Linked DNA regions of Homo sapiens: region 2 is linked to region 1. The links come from fine-mapping of genetic effects on gene expression. A gene starts in region 1. The other region holds a variant in brackets. All regions are shown on one strand. Distances are between the middles of the regions. Region 1 holds the start of PPP3CA (protein phosphatase 3 catalytic subunit alpha). Region 2 overlaps PPP3CA (protein phosphatase 3 catalytic subunit alpha).

Evidence for each region. PIP is the estimated chance that this variant, and not a neighbour inherited with it, causes the effect.
Region 2: its variant is fine-mapped to the expression of PPP3CA in whole blood (INTERVAL, PIP 0.93).

Annotation. Positions count from the first base shown.
Region 1 is chr4:101,346,435-101,348,934 of GRCh38, reverse strand. PPP3CA (protein phosphatase 3 catalytic subunit alpha) reads left to right here and starts at 1,409. Exons shown (of 14, transcript NM_000944.5): 1 at 1,409-2,196. The coding sequence starts at 2,139. PPP3CA-DT (PPP3CA divergent transcript) reads right to left here and starts at 1,158. Exons shown (of 2, transcript NR_033874.1): 1 at 926-1,158; 2 at 52-611. RefSeq lists silencers at 1,174-1,783, 2,254-2,500.
Region 2 is chr4:101,030,084-101,033,104 of GRCh38, reverse strand. It overlaps PPP3CA (protein phosphatase 3 catalytic subunit alpha), which reads left to right. Exons shown (of 14, transcript NM_000944.5): 12 at 741-838. Among named protein-coding and RNA genes, the nearest start is that of LINC01218, 150 kb to the right of the region's middle. RefSeq lists a silencer at 839-1,133 and an enhancer at 845-1,379. The variant A/G (reference allele first, on the strand shown) is at 1,512.

The sequences.
Region 1 (2,500 bases):
GAAATAGGAAAAACCTGATACTGAAGGACTTTGGAAATAAAACAGGAAACATGAAGGGTGAGAAATTTATTCAGATTTCTTCATAATTCCCCCCAAAAGCTCCAACCACGTTGCCAGTCCTTGGGTGCTGCAGTTGGTCGGGGAGAGGGGCTGTGTGGAGGTCACCTTCTGGTAGACGGAGACCCGCTTTTCAGACTCTGTGGCGCAGCAGGCGGGCCAGGAACATTTGGGCCACTATTGCTCTTAGCCCTGCCGCGCCTGACTTTCTCTCCTCTACTTTCCTTCCGACCGTAGGGACAAGTGTGGGGATCCGCTTTGGGCTCCAAGGCCCTGCCCGCACTGGCAGCACCAAGCGGGTGTAGAATGACTGGAAGGAGCAGGGAAGGAAGATGGGTGTCAACTGTCCCGGCCAGTGGCTGCGTGCATGTGTGTGTGAACAGGGAAAAGGCCACCCTCTCCCATGTTTCTCCCGTCTCCTCGGTTCTCCTCGGAGACCCGCAGGGCTGCCCGAGGTAGCTCCGAGTTGCCCTGGGTCGCTGGGGCTTGGTCCGCATCCTCCTCCGCTAGTCCGCTCCCGCGTTCCACAGCGCCCCGCCGCTCGGTGTGCACGCCTGGGTGGGACACAGTAACAGCCCCTAAGCCGCCAACGCAAAAGCAAAAACAACCGTACACCGCATCGCAGTCGTAGCTCTTCTCCGCAAGGTAAGTTGTTTATTCGTCGCCGTTTTGGCGATCCTCCCTGGACAGCTGCGGCAGCGACGGCAGCTGCGCCGCGGGCGCCGAGCTCCCAGCCTCTTCCTTCCTCCGCCCTCTCAGGGCTGCCTCTCACCCCCACCCTCTTCCCTCCTATCCCCGCCTTCTCTCTTCTTGCCCTCTTGTGGGCCACGCACACACCCGGAGACACCCTCTGCACTTGGCTACTCACACTGCGGCTTAACCCAGCCGACAAGGCACGCTTGCCAAAGAGGCGCGGGTGTGTGTGTGCGGGGTCCGCGTTCGGAGGCCAAAGGAGGGTGGCGTGGTAGAGCCCTTCTCCTCCTGGCCGCGACGCCTTGCCCACTCTCCTGCCCTAATCTCGGCCTGCCAGCAAAAGTGACACCTGAGCAGGGACTGGTCCGTAGAGGCGGCAGGCCCGCTGGTCCGGCAGCTGGAAGAAAACAGAGCAAGGGGCGGGGACAATGAGGAGGAGCGGGAGGCGGGACAAGCGGGGAGGCCGCCACCTGGCACTGAGTGATGCGCCCTCTAGCCAATGAACGCGAGGAACTCCGGCGTCGGGGCGGGAGGTCGGGGGCGGGCTCAGTGGGGAGGAGGAGGCTGCAGGCGCGCAAGAGGCGGGGGCCGGGAGGAGGAAGGGGAGGAGGCGGAGGCGGGCGCGGTGTTGGCGGCGGCGGCGGCGGCGGAGGGGGGTAGGTTGTGCCCGGGACTGTGTCTGCCGAGCTCGGCGGCTGTGCCTTGGTGAGTGGAGGAGCGGCGCGGGGAGGCAGAGGCGAGCGCGGGCGATCGCGGCGGCGGGACGTCTCCGGCGGCCGCGGCACCAGCGGCGGCGCTCTGTGTGGAGAAGCAGGGGCAGCGGCAGCAGCAACAGCGGCAGCGGCAGCAGCAGCGGCAGCAGCGGCGGCCGCCTCTCCGCCGCCGGGGACGCCAAGGTGCGGCTGGTGGCACTGACATCGGCGGCCCTGCCTCTCCTCCCTCGCCCCCGGCCTTCCCCATGTGATCGGTCTTAATCCTGGCCGTGTGTGCGCGCGTGGGGCTCCATTCCGCGGTGCTGGGTCTCCGTGCCGGGGTGGGTGCTCGTGTGTGCGCTTCTCCTCCCCATCCCCCTTCCCCCAAGAATAAAAGAAGAACCGGGAGGCGTGCTCAGAAAATAAATAAATAACCACCACACACGCGCAGCCCGGAGCGAGTCGGCGGGGCTGGCGGCAGCGGCGGAGGAGGAGTGAAGGCGGCGGCGGCGGAGGAGGGACGCGCGGAAAAGGCAGCAACTTTAAAGCCAGCTCAGAGCCTAGACCTCCAGCCGAGCGGTTTGCAGCGCGGCGGCGGCGGCGGCGGCGGCGGCGTTGAGTGTCTGGCCCGCCGGTCCGGTCGGGGTGTGCAGTCGGACGGACGAGCAGCGCGTCGCTGTCCTCCGGCAGCTGGAGATGTCCGAGCCCAAGGCAATTGATCCCAAGTTGTCGACGACCGACAGGGTGGTGAAAGGTAAGCGGAGCGCCGCGGTGGCCTGGGTGCACCGTGTGCCGCAGGCGCCAGGGCAGCTTGCCTCGCCTCGCCTTTCCTCCCCTCCCCCGCCCCAGGTTCTCCTCTGTCCGCTCCAGCCGCGGACCTTCTAGGATATTGTGCAACCCGCGAACCCCGCGAACCCCCCGCCCCCGCGGCGCCCTTCCCCCACGCGTCCCACCCAGCCTCACTTGGGGCATTTTTATTGACGGGGGCGTCAGTTGGCAAATGGCTGAGCCGCGGGGAGGTGGCGGCGGGGGTGGCGGTGGTGGGAGGGGGCGCCCGG
Region 2 (3,021 bases), 320 kb after region 1:
CAAAATGATTAATAGTGTCAAGTAATTAATAAATATAATTAAAATAATGATGTACTTAAAACTGATTGATTGTAAAACAATTGTCATGCTGAGTAAGAAAATAATTTTATATTAGCAAATCAGTGGGGAAAGTGACTGAAAAAAAAAATCTGGGAAATTTTACCAGTAGGTTTATTGGCTGCTTGCCATTATTTTATGTGTTTTTCATGTAACATCTAAATTACTAAATGCCTTAATTTCTCAAAGTCCACTGAATGTAATTCCTGATTCCCTAATCCACAAATCAGATTTTTTTTCAATCTCCATATGCTCTGTTTTTTTATTCCGTCAAATCAAATCACTTCCCCTTATTTTTGCTGAGCCTTGGCTGAAAAACTTAACATCAGCATTCTCTATGGCTCACTTTTAACATACAGAATGCACAACAAACACTTTGTATTGAGATGCCTGATTACAAAATCAAAATGGTTTTCTTTATCTATCTAGCTTCGATACTCAAAAGAAACAGAACCTCCCTAATTGGATAATGTAAACTTTATGGTAGCAATCGTTTATGGAACATTACTGGTATATAAATAAATTAAAATAAAGTATGTTAAAAAAAATTTTAAAAAAAGATCCGGAGAGCCAAGATAGAGGGAAATGTGGGTGCTTATATGCATTTTTTTTCCTTTCAGTCATTTCTTTCTTTTTCACAAAAGAAATTAAAAGTTAATGTCGCCCCTCATTGTGCCTTCCAGAGAAGAGAGTGAGAGTGTGCTGACGCTGAAAGGCTTGACCCCAACTGGCATGCTCCCCAGCGGAGTACTTTCTGGAGGGAAGCAAACCCTGCAAAGCGGTAAGCAGGCTGATGGGTATGACTGTGTGCTGGGGCATCGCAGTCAGCTGTGTCATTAGAGCCCTGATTTATTCATTCATTTAAGCTCTGTCTTGGTCTTCGGTTCTTCTTCTCAGCTGGCAGAAGGGCTGAAACCCCAATCAGTTTGATCAGTCATGTCCAACATAATAGCTCCCTCATTCTCTGGAATGTGGTCTTTACTCCACCTTTCCCCCATTCCCTCATTCACATGTTAATCTACATATTCAGCCTAGCTACAGGACAACTCATTTAGGTTGCCTACATGCACAATAGGTTTGACTACTTTGAGCCACTCCGTTGTCAAAAACAACTTTTTAATCACATTTTTAATAAGTATTCTGGTTATGTTTCATTTATGAGATAACACATACACACATAACCACTAAAATATACCTGTATGTCTAGATTTTCAGGAGATGATTTCATTATCCTCTTGAATGGAAATTGGAAGCCATTTGTGTCTTTTCTCTGATTTATCAATTGAAAACAAGAGACTGAATAGAACCACATTTTATTTTTGAAAAAAGAGTAACATTTCCTTTATAATACAGATTTTGTGTTAAAATGTGTAGCTTTCTAGACCTTAGACCTGTGCCGTCCAGCAGAGCTCTTTGTGATGGTGGAAATTTCTGTATCTATACAGAAGCCGCAT[A/G]TGACTGTTGAGCATATAGGGAATATAACCAAGAAACTAAACGTTTTCTTTTATCTAATTTATATTAAATTTAATTAAAATAAGCCAGGAGGCTAGTGGCTACCATGTTAGCAGCACAGTCCTATATATTCTTTCACTTTTGTTACATTTGTTATCAATTTTAACTACTATTATTATTACATACAATACAATTTTAACAATAGGAGATTGCTATTAGATGAGGCTTTAACAGAAAAAAATTAAAATGAAAATATGCTATAACATTTTTCAAAACATTCTCGGCCTCTTGCTTATTTTCCTGTATCTTTCTTTGAATCTTTTTTGTATTTTCTTTTCTGTCCCTGCCCTTCAACCTAGAAGACTCACTATTCTCATTTATATTATTCAATAAACTTCTACATGAAGAGTAATGATCAACTTCATGAATATAGTATTGCTGAATGATCACATCATGGCTGCATCACATTAATTGTCTTTATTTTCAGATGAATATATTCCGAATCAGTGTCTTTTGAGTTTTTACAAAAAGACAAAAATTTTTAAATGAAGGTAGGAAGATACATAGTATTGAGAAGTAAACGTCCCCTTTAAATTTACAGCTAGGAATTATTTTAACAACTTTAAAAAAAAAACACACACAAAAGTTTTTCTACCAAATTAAATATCTTACTAAAACATTAGCATAAATGGATCATTTACATGTCCAAAATGTACCATCTACCTAACTGACTGAAATCTAGTTTCTGATAAGCACATTTTAAGGCACAGCAAGTGTATTATCAGAAACTGTGGGCTTTAGAACACATTTAATAGTGTTCATTTAACATTCGCTTTAGAACATTTAATAGTGGGCAGTACATAGTTCTAATATGTCAGTGCTGGTGTGATTCTGGATGTTTTGCTTTACTTTTAAACTTACGTTACTTAAGTTTTTCCAGTTCTTTGTTTCATTTCCAGATTTTCACTTGTGTTTTTACTTAGGTTATTTGGTTTTATTTTATTTTAAATCCATTGGTTTGTGTTTTTCTATGGTTCAACCTACACACAAACACACATACACATAAAAGACATATGGGTTGGAACCTTTCTATATGGGTTTGAAAACTTACTATATATTTTAAACCACATACATTGATACGACTCCAAAATGTATTGCCTGATGCCCTTCAATTTGTCTAAAAGGGTAGACTACTTACAACTTTGCTATGTACTCTCTCTCTCCATGGTGATAACCATTCTCCATTTTTATCATAAGGAATCTCGAATCCACCGTAAGTAAGTTATAGTGCACATTTTGCAGTTGCTGTAGTTTTAAAATCTTGAATTATAAGAAAAATGCAAATTAAAGTCAAGGGGTAGAATTTTAATATTAAACATTTTGGAGTTACAGAGAAGTTTTGCATTTTAAGATTTCATTAGGGAAGTATAAACTAATCTTAATAACATAGAAAGACTCATATACTTATATAGTGGAAGTTTAGACCCTAACCTTATTACAAAAATTGCTGAT